Homo sapiens: one gene and its partners. The protein of the gene in region 1 purifies or fractionates together with the protein of each later gene. This does not show direct contact. Each region holds a gene or a part of one and is shown in the gene's direction. Other genes may lie near its edges.

Region 1 (3,500 bases):
CCATGGGGACAACACCACCCAGCTACTGGTTCTATAAGCTGCTGTATGGCTCTGGCTAGCCCATTCAGAGAAAGCCTCTGAAAGTACAAGGAAAAAAATCAGTCCAAGAGCTGTGAACAATTAGTGAGCCGATTACAATACCAAGACCACAGGCAGACCTGGAAGGCTAAGTGAGCCCAGGTGTGAAGTTCAAGCTTACTTTACTTCTGGGCCACTTCCTGGCTGGTCTCTTTCCCTGGCCCTTATCTTTCTCCTGGTCTGTCTTCTCTTCTCACCCCCTTTCTTTACTCTTTCTTCCTTCTCCTGCATCGTACTCCACCCCCACTCCAGCTATTACACAGAATCGCGAGAATGTTGGATTATTCATTTTATTTATGATGTTTTCTTTTTTGTAAAAATAGAGACAAGGTCTCACTATGTGGCCCAGGCTGGTCTTGAACTCCTGGCCTCAAGCAATCCTCGTGCCTTGGCCTCTTACAGTGCTGGGATTACAGATGTGAGCCACCATGCCTGGCCCATTTTATTTACTTTAAAAAAAAAATTAGGCTGGGCGCGGTGGCTCACACCTATAATTCCAGCACTTTGGGAGGCCAAGGTGGGCAGATCAACTGAGGTCAGGAGTTAAAGACCAGCTTGGCCACCTGGGGTCAGGAGTTTGAGACCAGCTACTCCGGAGGCTGAGACCGGAGAATTGCTTGAACCCAGGAGGTAGAGGTTGCAATGAACTGAGATCATGCCATTGCATGCCAGCCTGGGCAACAGAGCAAGACTGTCTCAAAAAAAAAAAAAATTATGTTTTGTGCTCCTGCTTCCTGCTTTGTAAGTCAAATCAGTTTAACTGTTCAAGTGTCTTCCTTGCAAACCCCCAAGGACTCAATGTGTGTCGCCCTTGACTGATCCCCCCGCCCCGTGACCCAGTGGTCCTCAGTTCCAGGTTTTCCCACCTACCCTTCACCCACTGCTTATGTTTATAAAAACGGGGTAAATCAAATGTTCGTGACCCAGATCTTATTCTACATGCAGTGGAAACTTGTATGACTTAAGCTTTTTGGAAAAGCAGAACCTTTTTTCGTGGTTCAAGAAATCAAAGTCTTCCCGGGAGGTCTTTCTGTAAATCCAGAGCTGCAGATGTTTGACCGTGTTCAGAGAGGGGCCCTTGTGCTGGGTGAAGTGGATGGGGCACAGCAGGCAATGGGTGAAAAGCAGGACAACCTGGGGCCCTGGGAGGACCAGGGAGGGCCCATGTCTTTGACTGTTCATCAGCCGGCTGACTTCCTGTCCGCCTGTCGTCTGCTCTGCCCATCCATCCGTAGTCCTTCCGCCTGTCTCTGCTGGTTGCCGCTGTGCTACTCAGCTGTGTCTGTCTGTCCGCCTGACTGTCTGCTCTCCTTCAGGATGCCTTCCGTGCCTTCCATCAAGATCTCAATTTTGTGCGCAAGTTCCTACAGCCCCTGTTGATTGGAGAGCTGGCTCCGGAAGAACCCAGCCAGGATGGACCCCTGAATGTGAGCCAGAGCCCTAGGAGAGGCTCAGCCCCTGAGGGAGGGGGATGGCTGGAGGGCTGGGAGACATTGCCACATGGCCAGGAGCAGCTCCCTCGGCATTCGCCCAAGGGGATGCAGAGCCAGGGCTGAGCCTGCCCTCCCCTCCCAGGGGGCAGGCAGTTGAAAGTGAAGCTGTAGGGATGCCCTGAGAAGTCCAGGGCTCCAGATCTGGTTTAGCCAGGCACCCGTTTGGATCCCGAGGCAAGCTCCCTCCCTGTTGTCGCCCAGTGTCCCCATCAAAAGGAGGATTTTGATGAACTGATTTCTCTCCTGGCTGTAGCGTCTTACCCACCCCATACCTTTTGGGAGGGAGAGGAGGCTTCACCACCAGCCAGTGCTCCAGCTCACACCCCGGGCTGGGTACTCTTGTCACTTCATTCCTCTTTGCCCACACCCCTTGGGCCTGGCGATGGGAGGAGCGGCTGGGGCTCCAGGAGAATGGGGGTGGGGAGGAATTTCTTCCTTGGCTGATCGGCCCCTCTGCTATGGCAGGCGCAGCTGGTCGAGGACTTCCGAGCCCTGCACCAGGCAGCCGAGGACATGAAGCTGTTTGATGCCAGTCCCACCTTCTTTGCTTTCCTACTGGGCCACATCCTGGCCATGGAGGTGCTGGCCTGGCTCCTTATCTACCTCCTGGGTCCTGGCTGGGTGCCCAGTGCCCTGGCCGCCTTCATCCTGGCCATCTCTCAGGTGACCCCAGTTCTGTGTTGCAGCCACCTTAACTGCCCAACAGACGTGGGCCCCCATGCATCTGGGCATTGTGAACATATTTGCTAAATGAATGAATGGACCTATGAAAGGATGAATGGATGAATAAACAGATGAATGAGTGAACAGTCTGAAGGCCCATCAGGCATGTCTGTGGGTCAAGCTGCATTCCAGATGAGCCAAGAAGTTCCTTCTTGAACAGATTCCGATCAAGCACAGGGCCACTGAGCCAGAGGCTGCTGCCCTGCAGCTTCATGACACTTACGAGCCCCTCCACCTCCCTGGGACTCAGTTCTCATCTGTAAAAAGAGGACACTGGCCCACAAGGGTCTTGAAATGGAGCATTAGCACGGGGGTACCCTGCAAGCTGAAAGGATTCACTGGGGCCCCAGGCCCTGGCGGGCTCCGTCCTTCCCAACAGCTTCTGACCCTGCCTCTCTCCCCAGGCTCAGTCCTGGTGTCTGCAGCATGACCTGGGCCATGCCTCCATCTTCAAGAAGTCCTGGTGGAACCACGTGGCCCAGAAGTTCGTGATGGGGCAGCTAAAGGTGAGGGTGGGGTGGGTGGTCAGCCAGGTGCTGGGTGGCGCTGGGTCTGCCCAAGTGTGTGGGCACAGTCGGGGGCACAGCCTGCCCTGAGAGCCCCCTCCTCCTCCACAGGGCTTCTCCGCCCACTGGTGGAACTTCCGCCACTTCCAGCACCACGCCAAGCCCAACATCTTCCACAAAGACCCAGACGTGACGGTGGCGCCCGTCTTCCTCCTGGGGGAGTCATCCGTCGAGGTGGGTGGGGAGGGACGTGGACAACCTCTGGCTGGGCCTGCAGCTGAGGGGGAGCTAATGCACTGGGTCCCCACTCTGCCCCTGACCTAGCCCCTGATCTGGCCTCCACTCTGGCTGGGCCAAGCTCTGCCCCCGTGTCTTTCCTTCCCACCTCCCAACCTGCTGGGGACGACCAGCCCGCTTGCTAGAATCTAGAGTTGCCTTTGACCCTTGGCCCCAGCCAGCCCCGTGACCTTGCCCGGGAGAAGGAGGTGGCCTGGAGAGCTGCTGTCTCCAGCCGCCGCCTGTCTCCACAGTATGGCAAGAAGAAACGCAGATACCTACCCTACAACCAGCAGCACCTGTACTTCTTCCTGAGTGAGTGTCCATCTGTCCTTCTGGGGTGGGGGAGTGCCTGGGCCTGCACTGTCCTCCCTGCTGTCCTGGACCACTCCCAGCCACTTCCTGGGGCGGGGCACGTCTGTCA
Region 2 (3,500 bases), on another chromosome or scaffold:
AGCCTGGCCAACATGGTGAAACCCCGTCTCTACTAAAAATACAAAAATTTTCTGGACGTGGTGGCAGCTGGTGGTAGCTAGGACCCGTAATCCCAGCTACTCGGGAAGCCGAGGCAGGCGAATTTCTTGAACCTGGGAGGTGGAGGTTGCAGTGGGCAGAGATCACGCCATTGCACTCCAGCTTGGGTGACAAGAGCAAAACTCCCTCTCAAAAAAAAAGAAAAAATCATGCTTCTGTAAGGTGGCCCCACAACCAGCTCATGTGTACAGTTTCACTTCTATGTTAATGTTTTACAATATCAAGTTGAAAGAAACCCTGAATACGTGTGGGGGTTAATGAAAGTCTCACCAAAGCTGATAAAAACTTGATGAGGCTTCTAATCCTAGAGTGTGTGTGAGTAGTACTAGGTAATTTTTTTTTCTTTTTTAGAGACAGGGTCTTGCTCTGTTGCCGAGGCTGGAGTGCAATGGTGCAATCATAGCTCACGGCAGCTTGGACTCCTGGACCCAAATTATCCTTCCACCTCAGCCTCCTAAGGTGCTGGGATTACAGGCATGACCCACTGTGCCCCACTGTAATTTTTTTTTAAAGCAAAGTGCCAGACTATAGCTCTCCAGGTGTGTTTATGTCTTGAAAGTCCTGTAATGACTTCAGAAGCTTCTTCACCCATCTCAGGGCTATTGCTGTTTTTCACAGTCCTTGAACCACTTCTTGGGAATTGCCTTCGGGCTCTCAAGTTCATTCATTGTATATAATCAAGGGTGTCTGAGCTTTGTCCTTTAAGGATGAATATTGAAAAAAACAACAATCCACATTGTTTTTATTTTATTTTTTAAGTTTTATTTTATTTTTTTTTTTTGGTAGAGACTGGTTCTCACTATGCTGCCCAGGCTGGTCTCAAACTCCAGGCTTCAAGCAACCCTAATACCTCAGTCAGCCTCCCAAAGTGCTGGGATTACAGGCATGAACTACCGTGCCCAGCCCCACATGGTTTTTAGCAGCTAAAACCCCCTAGGAATTAAACCTTATGAAGGTGGGTGAAATAAGACAGTCAATGCTGGAGTGCATGATTTAGTACTACCTAAGTTGTTTATATCAGAGTTTCCCAGCCTGTGAGAATGGTTTATAGCCATGCCAGCATTTCTCCTAGCCTTTAGGGCAGCCAGGTGGGATCCTGACAGCCTGAGCCATCTGGAAGCAGCTTCCTCCATTTGTTGAAGTGTGATGCACAAATATCATATTCTGTGTATGTCATGACATTGAAAAGGATCAGGAAGTGTTGGTGGCCGGGTGCAGTGGCTCATGCCTGTGAGCACAGCACTTTGGGAGGCCAAGGCAGGAGGATCACCTGAGGTCAGGAGTTGGAGACCAGCTTGGCCAACATGGTGAAACCCCATCTCTACTAAAAATACAAAATAAATTAGCTAGGCATGGTGGCACACGCTTGTTGTCCCAGCTACTCAGGAGGCTGAGGCGGGAAAATCACTTGAACCTGGGAGGTAGAGGTTGCAGTGAACCGAGGTTGTGCCACTGCACTGCAGCCTGGGTGACAGAGTGAGACTCCATCTAAAAAAAAATTAAATTAAAATTAAAATTAAAAAGGAAGTGTTGGGATGTGCATTCCAGCTGCTCTGTCATTTTCACTAGTAGTTTCTTTTGCTTAGAGATAACATCTGCCTTCAGCCACCCCAGCAAGGACTTTTGTTGAAATGTTCTCCCTAAAACATTCTCTTTGCTTATTTCTTTTCCTCACTGTTAATGATAATTATAATGAACCTTTTGTCTTTTATTTTTTTTCTGTAAGGTGATTTTTGTGTGTGTGCCTGTTTCTGCCTCTTCCCATTTTCTCAAGACTCTGATATAAACCACAGAGTTTCTTTTTTGCTAATTTCCTTTACTTAGTACTTAATCTAAAGGTATAGCACCTGTAGACTAGATGTTATGGGAGGTTCTGGTTACCTGTACACCTTGCATTAATGTATGGGTATGAAGTTCAACATTTCATTTCAACTGAAAGACAGTATAGAGTGCTGATTAAGAATGTGGGCCTGGAGTTAGACTGGGTTCAAATCCTCGTTCAGGATCAGTTATTAGTTGTGTGACTTTGAGCCAGGTACTGACCCTCTCCATGCTGCTTCATCTACAAAATAGGATCAACAATAGTACTTCATAGAGTTGAGGAATAAATAAGTTAATACATATAATGCACTGAGAATATAGTCTGGGCCAGGAACGGTGACTCATGCCTGTAATCCCAGCACTTTGGGAGACTGAGGCAGGAAGCTTGCTCTTTAGGCCAGGAGTTCAAGACCAGCCTAACCAACATAGTGAGACCCTCTCTCTCTCTCTCTCTCTCTCTCTCTCTATATATATATATATATATATATATATGTATATATATATATATATATATATATGTATATATATATATATATATATATATATATGTATATATATATATATATATATATATATATAATTTTTTTTTTTTTGAGGCAGAGTTTTGCTGTGTCGCCCAGGCTGGAGTGCAGTGCTGTGATCTTGGCTTACTGCAACCTCCTTCTCCCGGGTTCAAGTGATTCTCCTGCATCACCGTCCGGAGTAGCTGGGATTACAGACGGGTGCCACCATGCCCGGCTAATTTTTGTATATTTAGTAGAGACAGGGTTTTACCATGTTGGTCAGGCTGGCCTCGAACTCCTGACCTCAGGTGATCCACCCACCTCGGCCTCCCAAAGTGTTGGGATTACAGGTGTGAGCCACTGCACCCAGCTTTTTGTGTTTGTTTAAAATCAAGTTCTAGATCCCTGAGTTTGTTGATTTCCTCACTTTTTAAATTTTTCTCTCTTTTTCTTTTTTTTTTTTTAGAGACAGGGTCTCACTCTGTCACCCAGGCTGGAATGCAGTGGCGCTATCACAACTCACTGAAGCCTCGACCTCCCACCTTAGCCCAGCAGCTGGGACTATAGGCATGCACCACCACACCTGGCTAATTTTTTTTTGTTTTTTGGAGAGTTGACATTTTGCCATGTTGCCCAACCTCGTCCCTAATTGCTGGACTCAAGGTATCCGCCTGCCTCAGCCTCCCAAAGTGCTGGGATTATAGGTGTGAGCCACCTCACCTGGCCTTCCTCACTTTTTAAAAAAGTAAATTTATTTAAAGAAAAATGGTGACAAAAATATTAAGTCAATAATAGCACAAATGGTAAAGAAATATTCAAAAATCATAAAAGTGGTATGCGAATGGCTACAGTTTATGAGACAGTTTTTCTAAGGCTACCAGGTCTTCTTATTTAGCTAGATTACTTGCTCTTATATTTTTGCTTCTATAATTTTTTTATTTTTCATTTTAATTTACTTTTTTTTTTTTTTTGAGACAGGGTCTCACTCTGTCACCCAGGCTGAGTACAGCCTCAACTTCCTGGATTCAAGTGATCCTCCTGCCTCTGCCTCCCGAGTAGCTGAGACTACAGCTGTGCACCACCATACCCAGCTAATA
Region 3 (3,296 bases), on another chromosome or scaffold:
AAAGAGTGGGCGGTCAAGGAAGGCCTCACTAAGGAGGTGATCTGACAAAGGAGCAAGCTAGAGAAAAGCACAGTTCCCAGCCAGAGGGAACAGGAAGTGCAAAGTGGCTGCAGGGTGGTGAGGGGACACCCAGGAGCTGAGGCAGGAGGAGGAAGAGGCTGGGGAGGGCATGCTGGCTCTTTGGATTTTGTTCTAAGAACAGGGGAAACCATTAGAGGGTCTTCACCTGGAGGCTGGCATAGCTTGGTTTACCTGTAAGAAGAGACCCCCCGGCTGCCCTGGGGAGACTGGGATGTGCAGAGGGGAGGCAGGGAGACGAGCAAGGAGGCTGCTGTGCTTCCCAGGGAGGTACCAGGTAGCTCAGACCAGTGGGAAGTGGAGTTAGGCAAGAAGCAGGAGGCCTCCCAAGGGGCGGTGATCAGCCAGGCTGCTTTTCCTTCAGGTTCCTTTAGCAAATTTGTGAATGTGATATCAGCCAGGACGGCCATTGGCCACGACCGGAAAGGGCAGCTGGTGCTCTTTCATGCAGACGGCCAAACGGAGCAGCGTGGGTGAGTCCTGGGAGCTGAGGCCCCCCGGCCGGGGCTCAGTCCTGCTAGGAGGAACGTTGACCCAATGACAGCCACCCTCTGACTCTACCTGCTTTCTGGGATGTTGACACCTATCTGTCCCCCCTCCCAGGGCCCCCTCACCTTCCCACAGGATGAGGGTTCTGAGATCTTTGCCGATTCCAAGAACTCATCATCTTCAGCTTTAGGCCTCACCTTTCCTGAACCCTAGATAGGATACAAGGAAATGGTCACAAAGTGAGCAGGGAGAAGATCTTGGTTCCAATCCCAGCTTAGCCATCGATGACTTGTCTACCCACCTATGCCGTAGACAAGTCCCTCGGCCTCCCTGAGCCTCATTTCTAGCCCCTGTAAAGAGAGTGTTTTGGTTTGCTCTGGTTGCATAACCAGCACAAATTTAGCAACACTCAGCAGGGAATGTTCTTTTGTTTGTTTGTTTCTTTGAGACAGGGTCTTACTCCGTCGCCCAGGCCAGAGTGCAGTGGTGCAATCTCAGCTCACTGCAACCTCTACCTCTCAGGTTCAGGTGATCCTCCCACCTTAGCCTCCCAGGTAACTGGGATTACGGGCACCCGCCACCACACCCAGCTAATTTTTGTATTTTTAGTAGAGATGGGGTTTCATCATGTTGGCCAGGCTGGTCTCGAACTCCTGACCTCAGGTGATCCATCTACCTCGGCCTTCCAAAGTGCTGGAATTAACAGGCGTGAGTCACCGCACCTGGCTAATTTTTGTATTTTTAGTAGACACAGGGTTTCATCATGTTGGCCAGGCTGGTCAACTTGGAATGTTCTATGTTCAGGGTGTCCCATGGACAAAACCAAGATGCTGGTTAGGCAGGGCTCTTCTCTTATCTGGAAAGAATCCTCTTGTTTAGGTTGTTGGAAGAATCCCCGTCGCCTCCTCAGTTGTGACTGAGGTCTTGGTTTCCCTGCTGGCCGCCATCTGGGGCCTCAGCTCCTTCAAGCTGCCCAGGTTCCTTCCCATGTGTGTCCTCTCCCCCAGTTGTCCGGCCACCCTCTCATCCCCCTCGTATTTCAAATCTCACTTCCTATTCTGTCACCAGCCAGAGAAGGCTCTCTGTGTTGAACACTCCTGTGATTCCAGTGGCTGCACCCAGATCCTCCGGGCCGTTTCCCCTCCCTTAAGGATTCCTATGCCATGTAACAGCACAGGCATGGGTGTGATCTCACGTGTTCACAGCTTCCGGGGGCTAGGATGAGACATGCTTGGGGGCGGGGGCCACTTAGAAATGTGCCTGCACTGTGGGCGTGATGCTCTGCACTGTGGAAGGAAAAGGAGTTAAATGAGAAATGATGGTGGGCGCTGAGCCTGAGCAGCGCCGCTTTGTGCCGCAGCATCAACCTGTGGGAAATGGCGGAGTTCCTGCTGAAACAGGACGTGGTCAACGCCATCAACCTGGATGGGGGTGGCTCTGCCACCTTTGTGCTCAACGGGACCTTGGCCAGTTACCCGTCAGATCACTGGTAAGCACGTGAGAGCCGCCTTCGTGAGGGCTGAAGTCCAGGTCTGCCCCAGCCTGTCTCATTCAGCCAATATTGAGTGCCTGCTATGTGCCAGGCCCCGGGGGTTCAAGAGAGCAGAAATTGCTGCAGTCCCTCCCCCAGGATGCCAGTACTACCCAGGCCTAGGAGCAGGGTCAGTTGGTCAGCAAAGACCTCCCTGAGGATGACAGAATAAGAACTGAGATCTGAAGGAGGTGGTAGCTGGGTGGGGGTGGGAGAGCCTTCCGGGCAGAGGGCACCACATGTGAAAGGCCCAGGGCTGGGAGGGATTGTAGGGAGCGGAGGAACCTATAAAAGACTGGAGAGGGCTGGGCACAGGGGCTCACGCCTGGAATCCCAGTGCTTTGGGAGGCCGAGGTGGGAGGTTCGCTTGGGCCCAGGAGTTTAAGACCAGTGTGGGCAACATAGACCCTGTCTTTATGAAAAAATAAAAAAAAATTAGGCAGGCGTGATGGTGCACACCTTACGGTTACAGCTGCTCAGGAGGCTCGGGTGGAAGGATCGCAATACCTCATCTCAAAAATAGATAGACGCCATCTTGTAGGTAGGTAGGTAGACAGGTGAGAATGGAGAGAGGGGTGGTTGGGGGCAGCCTGGAGGGAGTTGAGGGGCCGTCTGGGGGTGTCCTCTCCTCACACATCACATCCCTCTACAGCCAGGACAACATGTGGCGCTGTCCCCGCCAAGTGTCCACCGTGGTGTGTGTGCACGAACCCCGCTGCCAGCCGCCTGACTGCCACGGCCACGGGACCTGCGTGGACGGGCACTGCCAATGCACCGGGCACTTCTGGCGGGGTCCCGGCTGTGATGAGCTGGACTGTGGCCCCTCTAACTGCAGCCAGCACGGACTGTGCACGGAGAGTGAGTGGGGGTTCTGGGGAGGGGGCTCTGCCCAGCCCTGCCTTGCCCTAGGCCCTCACCTGGCCTCCCCGGTCTTGTCTCGGCAGCCGGCTGCCGCTGTGATGCCGGATGGACCGGGTCCAACTGCAGTGAAGGTAGGAGCTGCCACGCCACTAGCGGATGGGGAGACGGTGGCCCCCGGCAGCCCCCACTGCTCCTCTGCTGCTTCTGTCTCCACCTTCTGGTCTGGGAAATGCTTGCCTCTTGTCTTCTGCCCCGGCCTCACCTGCACATCACTGTGTGACTCCCCTGTGGCTGCTGCGGCCCGTTCCACAAAGGGCTCGGCTAAAACAAGGGTCCC
Region 4 (3,490 bases), on another chromosome or scaffold:
AACCACATGATTATCTCAATAGATGCAGAAAAGGCCTTCTATAAAATTCAGCACCCCTTCATGCTAAAAACTCTCTATAAACTAGGTATTGATGGAATGTATCTCAAATTAATAAGAGCTATTTATGACAAACCCACAGCCAATATCATACTGAATGGGCAAAAGCTGGAAGCATTCCCTTTGAAAACCGGTACAAGACAAGGATGTCCTCTCTCACCACTCCTATTCAGCATAGTATAGGAAGTTCTGGCCAGGGCAGTCAGGTAAGAGAAAGAAAGAAAGAAAGGGTATACGAATAGGAAGACAGGAAGTCACTTTGTCTTTGTTTGCAGATGACATAACTGTATATTTTAAAAACCCCATTGTCTCAGCCCAAAAGCTCCTTAAGCTGATAAGCAACTTCAGCAAAGTTGAAGTTGTGTGCAACACAAAATCAGTGTGCAAAAATCACAAGCATGTCTATACACCAATAATAGCCAAACCATGAGTGAATTCCCATTCACAATTGCTACAAAGAGAATAAAATACCTAGGAATCCAACTTACAAGGGATGTGAAGGACCTCTTCAAGGAGAACTACAAATCACTGCTCAATGATATAAGAGAGGACACAAAGGGAAAAACGTTCCATGCTTATGGATAGGAAAAATCAATATCATGAAAATGGCCATACTGCCCAAAGTAATTTATAGATTCAATGTTATTCCCATCAAGCTACCATTGACTTCCTTCACAGAATTAGAAAAAACTACTTTAAATTTCATATGGAACCAAAAAAGAGTCCATATAGCCAAGACAATCCCAAGCAAAAAGAACAAAGCTGGAGGCATCGTGCTATCTGACTTCAAACTATTTTACAAGGCCACAGTAACCAAAACAGCATGGTACTGGTACCAAAACAGGTATATAGACCAATAGGACCAATAGAACAGAACAGAGGACTCAGAAATAACACCACACATCTACAACCATCTGATCTTTGGCAAACCTGACAAAAACAAGGAATGGGGAAAGGATTCCCTATTTAATAAATGGTGCTGGGAAAACTGGCTAGCCATATGCAGAAAACTGAAACTGGACCCATTCCTTACATCTTATACAAAAATTAACTCAAGATGGATTAAAGACTTAAATGTAAGACCTAAAACCATAAAAACCCTAGAAGAAAACCTAGGCATTACCATTCAGGACATAGACATGGGCAAAAACTTCATGACTAAAACACCAAAAGCAATGGCAACAAAAGCAAAACTAAAATTGACAAGTGGGATCTAATTAAACTAAAGAGCTTCTGCACAGAAAAAGAACCTATCAGTGTGAACAGGCAACCTACAGAATGGGAGAAAAGTTTTGCAATCTATCCATCTGACAAAGGGCTAATATCCAGAATCTACAAGGAACTTAAATTTACAAGAAATAAACAACCCCATCAAAAAGTGGGCAAAGAATATGAACAGACACTTTTCAAAAGAAGACATTTATGTGGCCAACAAACAGGAAGAACTCATCACTGGTCATTAGAGAAATGCAAATCAAAAGCACAATGAGATACCATCTCATGCCAGTTAGAATGGCAATCATTAAAAAGTCAGGAAACAACAGATGCTGGAGAGGATGTGGAGAAATAGGAACACTTTTACACTGTTGGTTGGAGTGTAAATTAGTTCAACCATTGTGGAAGACAGTGTGGTAATTCCTCAAGGATCTAGAATGAGGAATACAATTTGATTTAGCAATCCCATTACTGGGTATATACCCAAAGGATTATAAATCATTTTATAAAGACACATGCACATGTATGTTTACTGCAGCACTATTCACAATGCCAAAGACTTGGAACCAACTCACATACCCATCAATGATAGACTGCATAAAGAAAATGTGGCACATACACACCATGGAATACTATGCAGCCATAAAAAAGAATGAGTTCATGTCCTTTGTAGGGACATGGATGAAGCTGGCAACCATTCTCAGCAAACTATCACAAGGACAGAAAACCAAACACCGCATGTTCTCACTCATAAGTGGGAGTTGAACAGTGAGAACATACGGGCACAGGGAGGTGAACATCACACATTGGGGCCTGTCGCGGGGTTGGGGGCAAAGGGAGGGAGAGCATTAGGACAAATACCTAATGTAGGTGACAGATTGATGGGTGTAGAAAACCACCATGGCACATGTATACCCATGTAACAAACCTGCATGTTCTGCATGTGTATCCCAAAACTTGTGTAATAAATATAAAAATAAAAATAGCTGCATTTTTAAAGCACTCATGTGTTCATAGATGCTTGCTCAACACTGTTTTTTCACCACTCCCCTGAGTTGTAGAGGCAGGTGGGTACTGACAAATGTCTTTATCAGTGAAAGGTGTCTCCGAGTTGAGGTGAGAGCTCTTTTATTTTAGTCTTTCAGGGATCACTTTCCCTCTGAAATACACTTGACTTAAAATGTAACAAGATGGCATATTTACTGAAAGGAATAATGCATCTTAAGATCTGTCAGATGATGATAAACTCTGTGCTCTCCTGGATAATGCTCAGATTAGTTCATATTCCCTGACACTGATTTCCCTGAAGCTTTAGACATGTCAGTGCCAAGAAAACTGTCTTCCCAAATAGTACACATCTATAAATTAAGAGTAATGGGGTGGGTTTTTGTTCTTTGAGACTATTTTTCCTAAATTTAGTTTCAAGAATTGATAAACCGCTTGCCCCTTCTGTTATGTTAGTTTATTATAGTCACATGTGGAAACTTTGTAATCTATTTCACTGAGGCATTTAAAAATATTCTGCCTTTTACATCATAGAATACCAGGAGATGCTGAATAGATATTTCAGTATTTTTCTTATTAGAAATCATAGTGTCCATTGTAGTACATTTTGAAAATACTGTGGTATAAAGAAAACTAAAATCACCTCTATGATCACTGTATACTTTATATATTTTCTTACAATTTTGTATTTTACAAACTATGGATTATGCTGTATAATTTTTAAATCTTTTAACAATACAAGCATTTTTTCTTTAAATATTTGACAGCATGATTTTCGTTGCCTGTATAGTATTTCATTACGGGTATATAATTTATCCAGTTCCCTGTTGTTAAATACTATGTGCAATGTTTTTTGCTTTTAAAAATACTATAAAAGACACCTTTGTATACAGGTCTTTTAGATTATTTCCTAAAAGAATTCTTAGGTTTAAATATGAGATACAAATGCTGCAAAAGATCCTAAAGTTCTAATAGAGAACAGACTGTCAAGTTTTTAGGTCAAAAAAGTCATTGCTACCTCACCTGAAAATCGTGGCCCAATTCTTATTTTTTTTTTTTTTTTGTCTGTGGGGAACTGTATTACATTAAGAATAGAGAAGAGTGAAGTTTCTTATTTTTTTGTTGCCCTTTCTTGCTCAAGTGCTATTACCACAGCTACTGGCACTCCATGGTCTATGTGCCACAGATGCAGCAGCAGCTTCATGTAGAGAAT
Region 5 (3,500 bases), on another chromosome or scaffold:
GTGCCTGGCCTTCATGCATGATGGTGTCTAAGACAGCCCCCGTGTCCATTCTCCCTCCTTACCCTGGCCTCTGTCCCCCACAGGTGACCAGCAATGGCAGCATCGGGAGGGACCCGCCAGCGGAGACCCAGCCTCAGAACCCACCGGCCCAGCCGGCACCCAATGCCTGGCAGGTCATCAAAGGTGTGCTGTTTAGGTGAGCAGACGGGACTTGGGTTTGTTCACCGAAAACATTCAAATAAAAATAAGGAAGAAAGGAAAAGTCAGCTGATCAGCTGAGGATGGTGATCATTACTGTATGGTAGAGTTGCTTTTTTTCTTTTTTTTTTTGTATGATGGAATGTTTTCTAAACCTTTTTTTTACTCTGGTAAAACATACTGAAGTAGGGAGTCTCCCTGAACCTGTTCTGGTTTTTGGGGGGCTACCTGATTTGTGAAAAAATAAAAACACAAAAAATACTGAAGTAGTTTGCTAGGGCCCTTGTATCAAGTAATATAGACGGAGTAGCTTAAACAACTGAAATAGGAAATTCATTGTCTTACAGTTCTGAAGGCTGGAAGTCCAGGATCCAGCTGTGGGCAGGGGCAGTTTCTTCTGTGGCTTCTCTCCTGGGCTTGCAGAAGGCCGTCTTCTCCCTGTGTCTTCATGTGGTCTTTCCTCTGTGTGTGTCTGTGTCCTAAGCTCCTCTTATGGGGACACTAGTCATACTGGCTTAGTACCCACCATAATGACCTCACTGAACCTTACTTTTTTACAGACCCTATCTGGGCCAGGCACAATGACTCACCCTCATAATCCCAGCATTTTGGGAGGCCAGGTTGGAAGGACTGCTTGAGCCCAGGAGTTTGAGACCAGCCTGGGCAACATAGTAAGACCCTGTCTCTACTAAAAATAAAAAAATCTGGCTGGGCACGGTGGCTTACACCTACAATCCCAGCACTTTGGGAGGCCGAGGCGGGTGGATCACGAGGTCAAGAGATCGAGACCATCCTGGCCAACATAGTGATACCCCATCTCTACTAAAAATAAAAAAATTCCGGAGGCTGAGACAGGAGAATGGCGTGAACCCGGGAGGCGGAGCTTGCAGAGAGCTGAGATCGCGCTACTGCACTCCAGCCTGGGCAACAGAGAAAGACTCCGTCTCAAAAAAAATAAAAAATACAAAAAAAATACAAAAATTAGCTGGGTGTGGTGGCACGTGCCTGTAGTCCCAGCTACTCAGGAGGCTGAGGGCAGGAGAATCGTTTGAACCCAGGAGGCAGAGGTTGCGGTGAGCTGAGATCGTGCCACTGCATTCCAGCCTGGGGACAGAGTGAGACTCCATCTCAAAAAAAAAAAAAAAAAAAAAGCCAGGTATGGTGACACGTACCTGTAGTCTCAGCTATTCAAGAGGCTGAGGTAGGAGGATCACTTGAGCCTTGGAAATTTTTTTATTTTTATTTTATGTATTTTTTTTTTTTTTTGAGACGGAGTCTCGCTCTGTCGCCCAGGCTGGAGTGCAGTGGCACAATCTTGGCTCACTGCAAGCTCCGCCTCCCGGGTTCACGCCATTCTCCTGCCTCAGCCTCCCGAGTAGCTGGGACTACAGGCACCCGCCACCACACCTGGCTAATTTTTTGTATTTTCAGTAGAGATGGGGTTTCACCGTGTTAGCCAGGATGGTCTCTATCTCCTGACCTCATGATCCGCCTGCCTTGGCCTCCCAAAGTGCTGCGATTACAGGTGTGAGCCACCGCACCCAGCCTATTTTTATTTTTGTAATGGAGTCTCGCTCTGTTTCCCAGGCTGGAGTACAGTGGCGCGATCTCAGCTCACTGCAACCTCCACCTCCTGGGTTCAAGCGATTCTCCTGCCTCAGCCTCCTGAGCAGCTGGAATTAAGGTATGTGCCACCATGCCCAGCTAATTTTGTATTTTTAGTAGAGATGGGGTTTCTCCATGTTGGTCAGGCTGGTCTCGAACTCCCAACCTCAGGCAATCTGCCCGCCTTGGCCTCCCAAAGTGTTGGGATTACAGGCGTGAGCCACTGCACCCAGTGCCTAGCTAATTTTTGCTTTTTTTTTTTTTTATTAGAGATGGGGTTTCACTATGTTGACCAGGCTGGTCTCGAACTCCTGACCTCATGATCCACCCGCCTCAGCCTCCCAAAGTGCTGGGATTACAGGCGTGAGCCACTGGGCCCTGCCTGACCCTCAGAAGTTGAAGCTGCAGTGAGCCGAGATCACACCACTGTACTCCAGTCTGGGCATCAGAGTGAGACCTTATCGCAAAAAAAAGTTGGGGGGACCCTGTCTCTAAATCTAGTCACGGTGGTACTGAAGGTTGAGACTTTAACATATGAATTTTGGGAGACATGATTCAGCCCACATCTGCACATAACATCAAATTTACCATTTTAACCTATGTTTTCATTTTAACCTTTTTTTTTTTTTTTTTTTTTTTTTTTTTTGAGACAGCGTCTCACTTTGTCACCCAGGCTGGAGTGCAGTAGTGCAATCTCGGCTCACTGCAGTCTCTGCCTCCTGGGTTCAAGCGATTCTCCTGCCTCAGCCACCTGAGTAGCTGGGACTACAGGCACCTGCCACCACGCCTGGCTAATTTTTGTATTTTTAGTGGAGATGGGGTTTTGCCGTGTTGGCCAGGCTGGTCTCTAACTCCTGACCTCAGGTGATCCACCCGCCTCAGCCTCCTAAAGTCCTGGGATTATAGGCGTGAGCCACCACGCTTGGCCCATTTTAACCATTTTTAAGTATGTAGTCCTGTGGCATTAAGTACATCTCCACTGTTGTGCCCCCATCACCATTATCCATCCCGAGAATTTACTCTTCCCAAACTGAAATTCCATACCCATCAGACACAAGCTTCCCATTTCTTCCTCCTTGCAACACCTGGCAGCCACTTTTCTATTTCCTGTCTCTCTTTCACTACTCTAGTTAGCTCCTGTATGTGGAATCAGACAGCATTTGTCCTTCTGTGACTGCCTGGTGGTGACCCTTTTACCTGTGGGTTCACATGCTATTCCTGGGCAGTGGGACCCCAGGGCCTGTTTTTTCAAAGCCCAGCTTCTGTTTGAGGCCCTGGGGAGATGCTGGGTGGTGGCGGGGGAATATGCTTGGCACTGGGTTCTATCCTTCCTGCCTAGACCTAGTGACAGTCACCTTCTTTGCTCTGAGCCTTTGTTTACTCCTCTGCAAAATAGATATTCCTTTTATTTTTTTTTTGCTTTTTGGAGATGTATTTTAGCAAAATAAGAGACCACACCATGCAGTTAGGCAATCAGCTTCCCTACTTATGAGATAGAAGGAATTGCACAGCAGAGATGTTTACAACAATCATCCCGCCAGGTGCGGTGGCTCACGCCTGCAATCCCAGCACTTTGGGAGACCGAGGCAGGCAGATCATGAGGTCAAGAGATCGAGACCATCCTGGCCAATATGGTGAAACCCCATCTCTACTAAAAATACAAAAATTAGCTGGGTGTGGTGGCACAAGCCTGTAGT
Region 6 (3,500 bases), on another chromosome or scaffold:
AAGGGTTTGGGCAAGGAGAGCATACAGGCGTGGCAGCCTCGTTTTGCGGGGCTGCGAGAGCGTCTGGCAGGATCGCGCTGGGAGTGAGGTCTGTGCCAGAGCTCCTGACATCTCACCTGTGTTTTTCAGGCTCACTGTCCTGTCGCTTTCCCTCCCCCACGTCACTTCCTCCATTCTTCCCCAGGAGTCTCTTTTCTCTCCCATACACTGCTTGGGAGAGAGCTGCAGAGCTGGCCCCTCCACAGATGGTGCTCAGCGTCTCTGGCTTCTCCTTCCTGCAGTAGCACCTTCATAGTCCGTGGTCATTCTCAGCACCATGTCTCAGTGCTGAGCCACAGGCTGGGATGCTGCACGCATTTGCCCATCTTACCTTCGCCACAGCCTTGCGTGTGAGGTTGCTTTACCATTTTACAGACCAAGCCCCAGAGGGATGAGGTCTCTGGCCCAAAGTTATACAGTGTACATGTGGCAAAGCTAGGACTTGAACCCAGGTTGGTATGGCTTGGCAGCTGGGGCTCTTTCTACTTCACCCTCCATTACCCTCTTTTCTCAGGTTCCCAGGCTTTTGGGGGCCTTCAAAGTCACCTGGAAGCTTGTCTAAAATGCTGTTCCCCTGGGCCCACCACCACAGACCTGCAGAGTCTGCCCTGGAAGGTTGGCCCCAGGAATCTGAACTTTGAAGATGCTTCCCCAGCAGTTGTGAGGCTGGTGGGCTACAAACAATGCTGAGAAACACTGACCGGACGCCATTCTTTCAGCCTTAGTCCCAGTCGTCTACCGCAGAACTCATGCCCTTGGTGTGGAAGCAGGGCTGAGCTCCCCACAGGACTGGGACTGGACAGGTTTTTTTTTTTTTGTTTAATTAATTAATTAATTATTTTGAGATGGAGTGTTGCTCTGTCACCCAGGCTGGAGTGCAGTGGCACAATCTTGCTCACTGCAACCTCCACCTCCCAGGTTCAAGCTATTCTCCTGCCTCAGCCTCCCGAGTAGCTGGGACTACAGGTGCCCGCCACCATGCCCAGCTAATTTTTGTATTTTTAGTAGAGACGGGGTGTCACCATATTGGCCATGGCTGGTCTCGATCTCCTGACCTTGTGATCCACCCACCTTGTTCTCCAAAGTTCCAGGACTACAGCCGTGAGCCACTGCGCCTGGCCAATTTTTTTAATTTAATTTTACTTTTTTGAGATGGAATCCTGCTCTGTTGCCCAGACTGGAGTGCAATGGTGCCATCTTGGCTCATTGCAGCCTCTGCCTCCTGGGTTCAAGTGATTCTCCTGTCTCAGCCTCCCAAGTAGCTGGGATTACAGATGTGCACCACCACGCCTGGCTAATTTTTGTATTTTTAGTAGAGACGGGGTTTCACCTTGTTGGTCAGGCTGGTCTCGAACTCCTGACCTCAGGTGATCCACCCACCTCGGCCTCCCAAAGTGCTGGGATTACAGGTGTGAGCCACCGCACCTGGCCAGACAGTTGTTTTTTAGTGGCTTCATTTTGTGTGTGTGTGTGTGTGTGTGTGTGTGTGTGTGTGTGTGCTGGGAAGGCGAGGGGCTTAACCTTCCCTCCTCAAGGACGTGTGGGGCTGAGGTTTCTAGAAGGGCTTTTACTCCCAGCCACAAATGTTCCCTGCTGTCTTCCAGATGCGTTTCTGTTGCGTCTTGCGTCTTGCAGCAAGTTTGTCTACATCTAAACGTCTCTTGAGGGCTTAAAACCTCAAAATTAAATTGCTTGCTGCAATCTAAGCCTCACGCCTAGAGCAATGTTCCAGTGGAGTAAAAGTGGCTGTAAAATTCCATAGCTTTCACGTGCCACCTGGACGCCGTCAGAGTGCCACTGCCAAACCTGCGCCCTCTGACGGGCAGCATGACAAACGCACTGACCAGCAGCGGGGGCGGTGGGCGGGAATCCTGGCCCTGAAGGGACACCTCGCATCTCCCAGCTGACTCCATGAGTCAGGATCCCTGGGGGTAGCCCCCTTCCATCCCAGAGAGTCGGGTACCAGGCAGCTCACCCTCTGTCAGACCCCCCAGTCCTCCCCCTGGCTCACCTAGGGCTTGGCCAGTGCCCACTCCCCTGGGATCTCAGCAGAAGATGTGTCTGCTGCCTCTCTAGGGTACTGGTGGCCACATTTCATAACCTGTCTAAGAAGGCAGCGCTGGTATTCATAACAGGTTAAGACCTGTAAACCGTGTGTGGCCGTGACTCCATGTGCAAATATGAGCCAACAAACGTTGGCTGGACGTGGCGGTTCCCACCAGTAATCCCAGCACTTTGGGAGGCTGAGGTGGAGGATTGCTTGAGCCCAGGAGTTCCAGACCAGCCTGGGCAACATAGTGACCTGTCTCTACAAAAATAAAAAAAAAATTAGTCCAGGCACAGTGGCTCAGCACTTTGGGAGGCTGAGGCAGGTGGATCACCTGAGGTCAGGAGTTCAAGACCAGCCTGGCCAACATGGTGAAACCCCGTTTCTACTAAAAAATACAAAAATCAGCCGGGTATGGTGACATGCACCTGTAATCCCAGCTACTTGGGAGGCTGAGGCAGGAGAATCACTTGAACCCGGGAGGCGAAGGTTGCAGTGAGCCGAGATTGTGCCACTGCACTTTAGCCTGGTGACAGAGTGAGATCCCGTCTAAAAAAAAAAATTAGCCAGGTGTGGTGGCATGTGCATGTAGTTCCAGCTACTTAGAGGTTGAGACTGGAGGACTGCTTGAACCCAGGAGTTCCAGACCAGCCTGGGCAACATAACAACCTATCTCTACAAAAAATTTTTAAAAATAGCCAGGTGTGGTGGCACATGCCTGTAGTTTCAGCTACTCGGAGGCTGAGGCTGGAGGATCGCTTGAGCCAAGGAGTTCAAAGTTGCAGTGAGTCATGATCGCACCATTGTGCTCCAGCCTCGGCGACAGCGCAAGATCCTGTCTCAAAAAAAATAAAACGGCCTGCCTTCTAGGCCCTTCTGCCCCCAGGGCCCAGACCCAACACTGCCTTCTGGCCCTAAACCCAGGGCTAGGCTCCCTTCCAGAGCTTCCTTATAGCAGTACCCGTGAGACCAGAGGCATCTGAGTATGGCCTGATGGGGTTCCCTGTAGAGCCCTGGTTTCCATGTACCCCCTAAGGAAAAGAGTATCTTGTCTCAAGAAGTATCTTCAAGGGCCTGGGTCCCAGGTGGGTCCGGGAGGCCTGCTTGTCTTTGAGGCAGGTTGGCACAATGGAAAGTCGGGCTTGGGGTGCATCTTCCCAGCTCTTCCTAGCTGTGTGGCCTTGGGCAGGTTACCAAACTTCTCTGGGCCTCCGACATCACACCCATAAAAGGACTGATTTAAACTCTACCATAATAATAACAGCAGTGAACGTTCCAGAGCCTTACTGTATGGCAGGCACTAGTCCAAAAGCTTTATATGGACTGTCTCCTTCTGTCCTCATCACAGCCCTCCAAGCAATAGACTTGTCAACCCATTTTACAGATGAGGAAACCAGAGCCCAGCGAGGTGAAG
Region 7 (3,500 bases), on another chromosome or scaffold:
TGCATTGAGCTATGATCGCACCACTGTTGTCCAGGCTGGGTGACAGAGTGAGATCCCATATCTTAGAATACAAGAGTGCTGATTTTAACCTCTTTGGATGCAAATTTCAAAAATTCACTGATACTTATTTCAAGTTTATAAGTGGATTTTAAATATTTGTTGATTTTTATTAAGACAAGTGTCTGCATGATGTACCAAATTAAAAATCAAGTGGAACAGATATTATTTATATTTGTTTCCTACAGCCCCCAAAATAGAGAAAGTAAATGATCACATTTGTGAAATTACATGGGAGTGTTTACAGCCAATGAAAGGTGATCCAGTTATTTACAGTCTTCAAGTTATGTTGGGAAAAGATTCAGAATTCAAACAGGTATGTACCAAGATATTAATGTGTGGATGCATATTTTTACCCTTTTTTAATTTTTATGTATTTTCAGTGTAAGATTTGGCCATCTTTACCTTTTAATTCATAAATATTTATTCAGTATATATTATGTTCCAGAGATCTCAAGATTCCAAATCTTTTCAGTATGAACTACACTTGAACAGATTATTCATTTATCTGATAAGTATTCATTGAATTCTGTGCCAGGCACTCAGGATATAGCACTGAACAAAAAGTCCCTTGCCTCCATGGAGCTTACTTACATTCTGGTGGAAAAGAAGACACTATAAGCAAGTAAACATGACAATATATTGTCAGATATAAGTGTAATGGAGAAAAAACAAAATTGGATAAAAGAAATAGGGAGTGGAGGGGGAGGGCACTGAGTGTTATTTCATTTGGGGCACTCAGCTGACATTTCAGCATGGCCCAGAGGAGATGACTATGGAGAGAAGAGTGTTCCAAGAAGATACGCTGAGGCAGGAACATGCCTATTAAATCTGATGAACATAAAGGAGCCAATATGACTGGATGGAGAGAGCAAAGGGAAGAGTTGATAAGGTCGGATAGTTAATCCTAAGGGGCCTATAGGTGGTATGGAGTGACGTAAGGCATAATAGGCCATACTGTGGCTTTTACTCCACGTGAAATGAGAAGACAGTGGAGGATTTTGACCAGGGTATTCACGTGATCAGACACAACGTTGTTTTGACTATAGTGTTGAAACTACAGTAGGACAAGGGCAGAACTAGAAAGACTAATAAGGAGGCTTTTACAATAATAGTATTAATAATAGTCATAATGCAGTGCTGTAAATATGACATTAGGCATGAAGTTATAATGGAAACCTAGAGGAATTGTCACCTTCCTAGCCAAGAGGTTTCAAAGATAGCTTTCTGATAAAGCAAGAATAGCAGTGAGATAGAGTGGAGTGTTGCCAATGTTTGTTACAACTTTTAAAAAGAATAAGCTTTTATACCACTCCAAAGACTAATTAAATACCTATACATTTCACCTGATTTTCCCTTTTTCCTGTAACCTTAATTTTGAGGGCTTTTAAGCTGGGTTGTTTTCATTGTGTCTTATATTTTCCTCTTCCACTAAAAAAAAGATCCTTCATTTGTTTTATTCCAGTATTGTGCTATTGTAACCACTCTATGTAATATCTTAACTGAAATTACAAAAGATCCAAAGAGTCAGATTAAATCTGGCATGCAATTGTTTTTCTTTATTAAGCCATCTGCAAATTGACAGGATAATTAGATTTGAAATGTAATTTACAGATAAGTAGGTTTCCTTCTAAGGAGGAAGCAAAATTAATATTAAAGAAAATATAATTGTATTACACGTTTAAAGGAAATAGGGATTCCACATTTGAGTAGTATATGAATAACCTTAAGGCTTGTTTGAATGACTTTTCTTGGGTGTATAAACCTTCTGAAATTAGCTTGAGCAGGTTAATCTGTTTTCTTCAGTCCTGTATTTACAGTTACCTGTGTCTCTTCCTGCTTAGAGGTCTTCCCACATCTGAAATACAAAATTGAAAACTTGATCCCATCATCTTCCCTCCCAGTATCTCCTCTCCAACATCTTTACTTCATCAGTGTCATAGACACCAATATCATCTTGGTCTCCAAGCTTTAAATTCTTAGATGAATTTTTTTTTCCTATCAACTCTTAATCAGAATTTGTTTCTAAATCCATAAAACTACATCAGGGCCTCATCACTTTTTACATGTACATCAAGAGTCCCTGTCCTACTCAGCTCCCTTCAGTCCTTCACACAGCCTCACGATTAGGATTCCATAAACACTGTTTTAATGTCACACACCTACAGTGGTCCCTTTTGAATTAACCTAAATTTCCAACTAGTGTAATTAATGTATTCTTCCTCTTTGTACCAGATCTCTTATCACCCTCATGCCATTTGTTGAGGTTTTTCTTTCTTAACCTAATACTGCCAGGCTCATGGAATGGTATATGAAGACACATGGAAAGTATAAAGACAAAAATCATCTATTATATCCATAAGACAAATACATATTTTTAATTTTTACTCAATTTACTTCAGTGTTATGTATACAATTTTACACTACTTTATCATACAACATTCTGTTTTAAGTGAATCCTTTTACAGGTTGAAGCATCCCAAATAAAGTCCAAAATTCAAAATGTTCCACCCAAAATCTGAAACTTTTTGAGGATCGATATGACACTCAAAGGAAATGCTCATTGGAGCATTTCCAATTTCAGATTTTTGGGTTTGGAATGCTCAACTAGTAAATATGCAACTATTCCAAAATCAAAAAAATTGAAATGCTTCTGGTTCCAAGCATTTCTTATAAGGGATACCCAACCTGTACCATCTCCCAAACATGGATCATTTCTACATTCTATTCCCTGAAACATTATGCATCCTTAGAACTAATGTATAGTCACCATTTTCTTTCAGATTTATCTTAAAGCTTCTTTCAGTAAGTTCCTTTATATATTGTTATCAGCATCCACATTTTTATTTATTGCCAATAATTCACTAATTTAATGTCCTTTTATTAAGTACCTACTATATGCTAGATTCTGGAGACAGAAAAATGAGACAGAGATCTTACTTTACTTTGAGAGCAAAGCAATATGTAAAAATTTAGATTTACATCACAGGTACAATTGAGGCAGCTAAAAGTACTTGAAAGCCCCCATGTGTTGGTTCTTCTGACTTGTAGCCCACCAACTAACTGGAGAAACTCAACTGACAAGTCATTTAACCCTATGAACCTTGGTTTTCTCAATTACAGAATGAGTGGTGGGAGGTTGCTCATTATTGGAAATGATAGCTCCTACAGATTGAGCAGTGACTGCATGCTGAGCACTGCGCTAAGTGCTTTAACAAGCATTAGTTCATTTCATCCTCATAATTATCATACATGTTAACTACTAGTATGTCTGTTATACTAAGGTAGTTGGTCTAAAATCACATCTGGAGTGTGAAGTGGTAGAGCAGACCTTGGATGCCAGGGGTGAACAGTTCTAGTATATAGCTTCTTATTTATGCCTAGTGTTCCATTATTGGAACACTAAGCTTGTGGTAGTTATTTATATCTCACTGATCAAGGTT

The links.
Region 2: the proteins of FADS3 (region 1) and ERICH5 purify together in Homo sapiens (affinity purification with mass spectrometry; 2 studies listed by BioGRID and IntAct, with this or other methods). This does not show direct contact.
Region 3: the proteins of FADS3 (region 1) and NAGPA purify together in Homo sapiens (affinity purification with mass spectrometry; 2 studies listed by BioGRID and IntAct, with this or other methods). This does not show direct contact.
Region 4: the proteins of FADS3 (region 1) and ALG13 purify together in Homo sapiens (affinity purification with mass spectrometry; one large-scale study listed by BioGRID and IntAct). This does not show direct contact.
Region 5: the proteins of FADS3 (region 1) and CLPTM1 purify together in Homo sapiens (co-immunoprecipitation; one large-scale study listed by IntAct). This does not show direct contact.
Region 6: the proteins of FADS3 (region 1) and LRRC8A purify together in Homo sapiens (co-immunoprecipitation; 3 studies listed by BioGRID and IntAct, with this or other methods). This does not show direct contact.
Region 7: the proteins of FADS3 (region 1) and FNDC3A purify together in Homo sapiens (affinity purification with mass spectrometry; 2 studies listed by BioGRID and IntAct, with this or other methods). This does not show direct contact.

What each region holds. Positions count from the first base shown.
Region 1 is NC_000011.10:61,878,046-61,881,545, reverse strand, and holds part of FADS3 (fatty acid desaturase 3), read left to right. Parts: intron 1-1,394; coding exon 1,395-1,505; intron 1,506-2,036; coding exon 2,037-2,234; intron 2,235-2,698; coding exon 2,699-2,800; intron 2,801-2,911; coding exon 2,912-3,034; intron 3,035-3,267; exon of another isoform or gene 3,268-3,330; coding exon 3,331-3,391; intron 3,392-3,500. UniProt on the Homo sapiens protein: Mammals have different sphingoid bases that differ in their length and/or pattern of desaturation and hydroxyl groups.
Region 2 is NC_000008.11:98,071,068-98,074,567, forward strand, and holds part of ERICH5 (glutamate-rich protein 5), read left to right. Parts: intron 1-3,500.
Region 3 is NC_000016.10:5,027,640-5,030,935, reverse strand, and holds part of NAGPA (N-acetylglucosamine-1-phosphodiester alpha-N-acetylglucosaminidase precursor), read left to right. Parts: intron 1-442; coding exon 443-551; intron 552-1,927; coding exon 1,928-2,056; intron 2,057-2,750; coding exon 2,751-2,956; intron 2,957-3,042; coding exon 3,043-3,090; intron 3,091-3,296. UniProt on the Homo sapiens protein: Catalyzes the second step in the formation of the mannose 6-phosphate targeting signal on lysosomal enzyme oligosaccharides by removing GlcNAc residues from GlcNAc-alpha-P-mannose moieties, which are formed in the first step.
Region 4 is NC_000023.11:111,754,170-111,757,659, forward strand, and holds part of ALG13 (UDP-N-acetylglucosamine transferase subunit ALG13), read left to right. Parts: intron 1-3,418; coding exon 3,419-3,490. UniProt on the Homo sapiens protein: Catalytic subunit of the UDP-N-acetylglucosamine transferase complex that operates in the biosynthetic pathway of dolichol-linked oligosaccharides, the glycan precursors employed in protein asparagine (N)-glycosylation.
Region 5 is NC_000019.10:44,961,880-44,965,379, forward strand, and holds part of CLPTM1 (putative lipid scramblase CLPTM1), read left to right. Parts: intron 1-83; coding exon 84-196; intron 197-3,500. UniProt on the Homo sapiens protein: Involved in GABAergic but not glutamatergic transmission. Binds and traps GABAA receptors in the endoplasmic reticulum (ER).
Region 6 is NC_000009.12:128,888,633-128,892,132, forward strand, and holds part of LRRC8A (volume-regulated anion channel subunit LRRC8A), read left to right. Parts: intron 1-3,434; exon of another isoform or gene 3,435-3,500. UniProt on the Homo sapiens protein: Essential component of the volume-regulated anion channel (VRAC, also named VSOAC channel), an anion channel required to maintain a constant cell volume in response to extracellular or intracellular osmotic changes.
Region 7 is NC_000013.11:49,202,912-49,206,411, forward strand, and holds part of FNDC3A (fibronectin type-III domain-containing protein 3A), read left to right. Parts: intron 1-245; coding exon 246-373; intron 374-3,500. UniProt on the Homo sapiens protein: Mediates spermatid-Sertoli adhesion during spermatogenesis.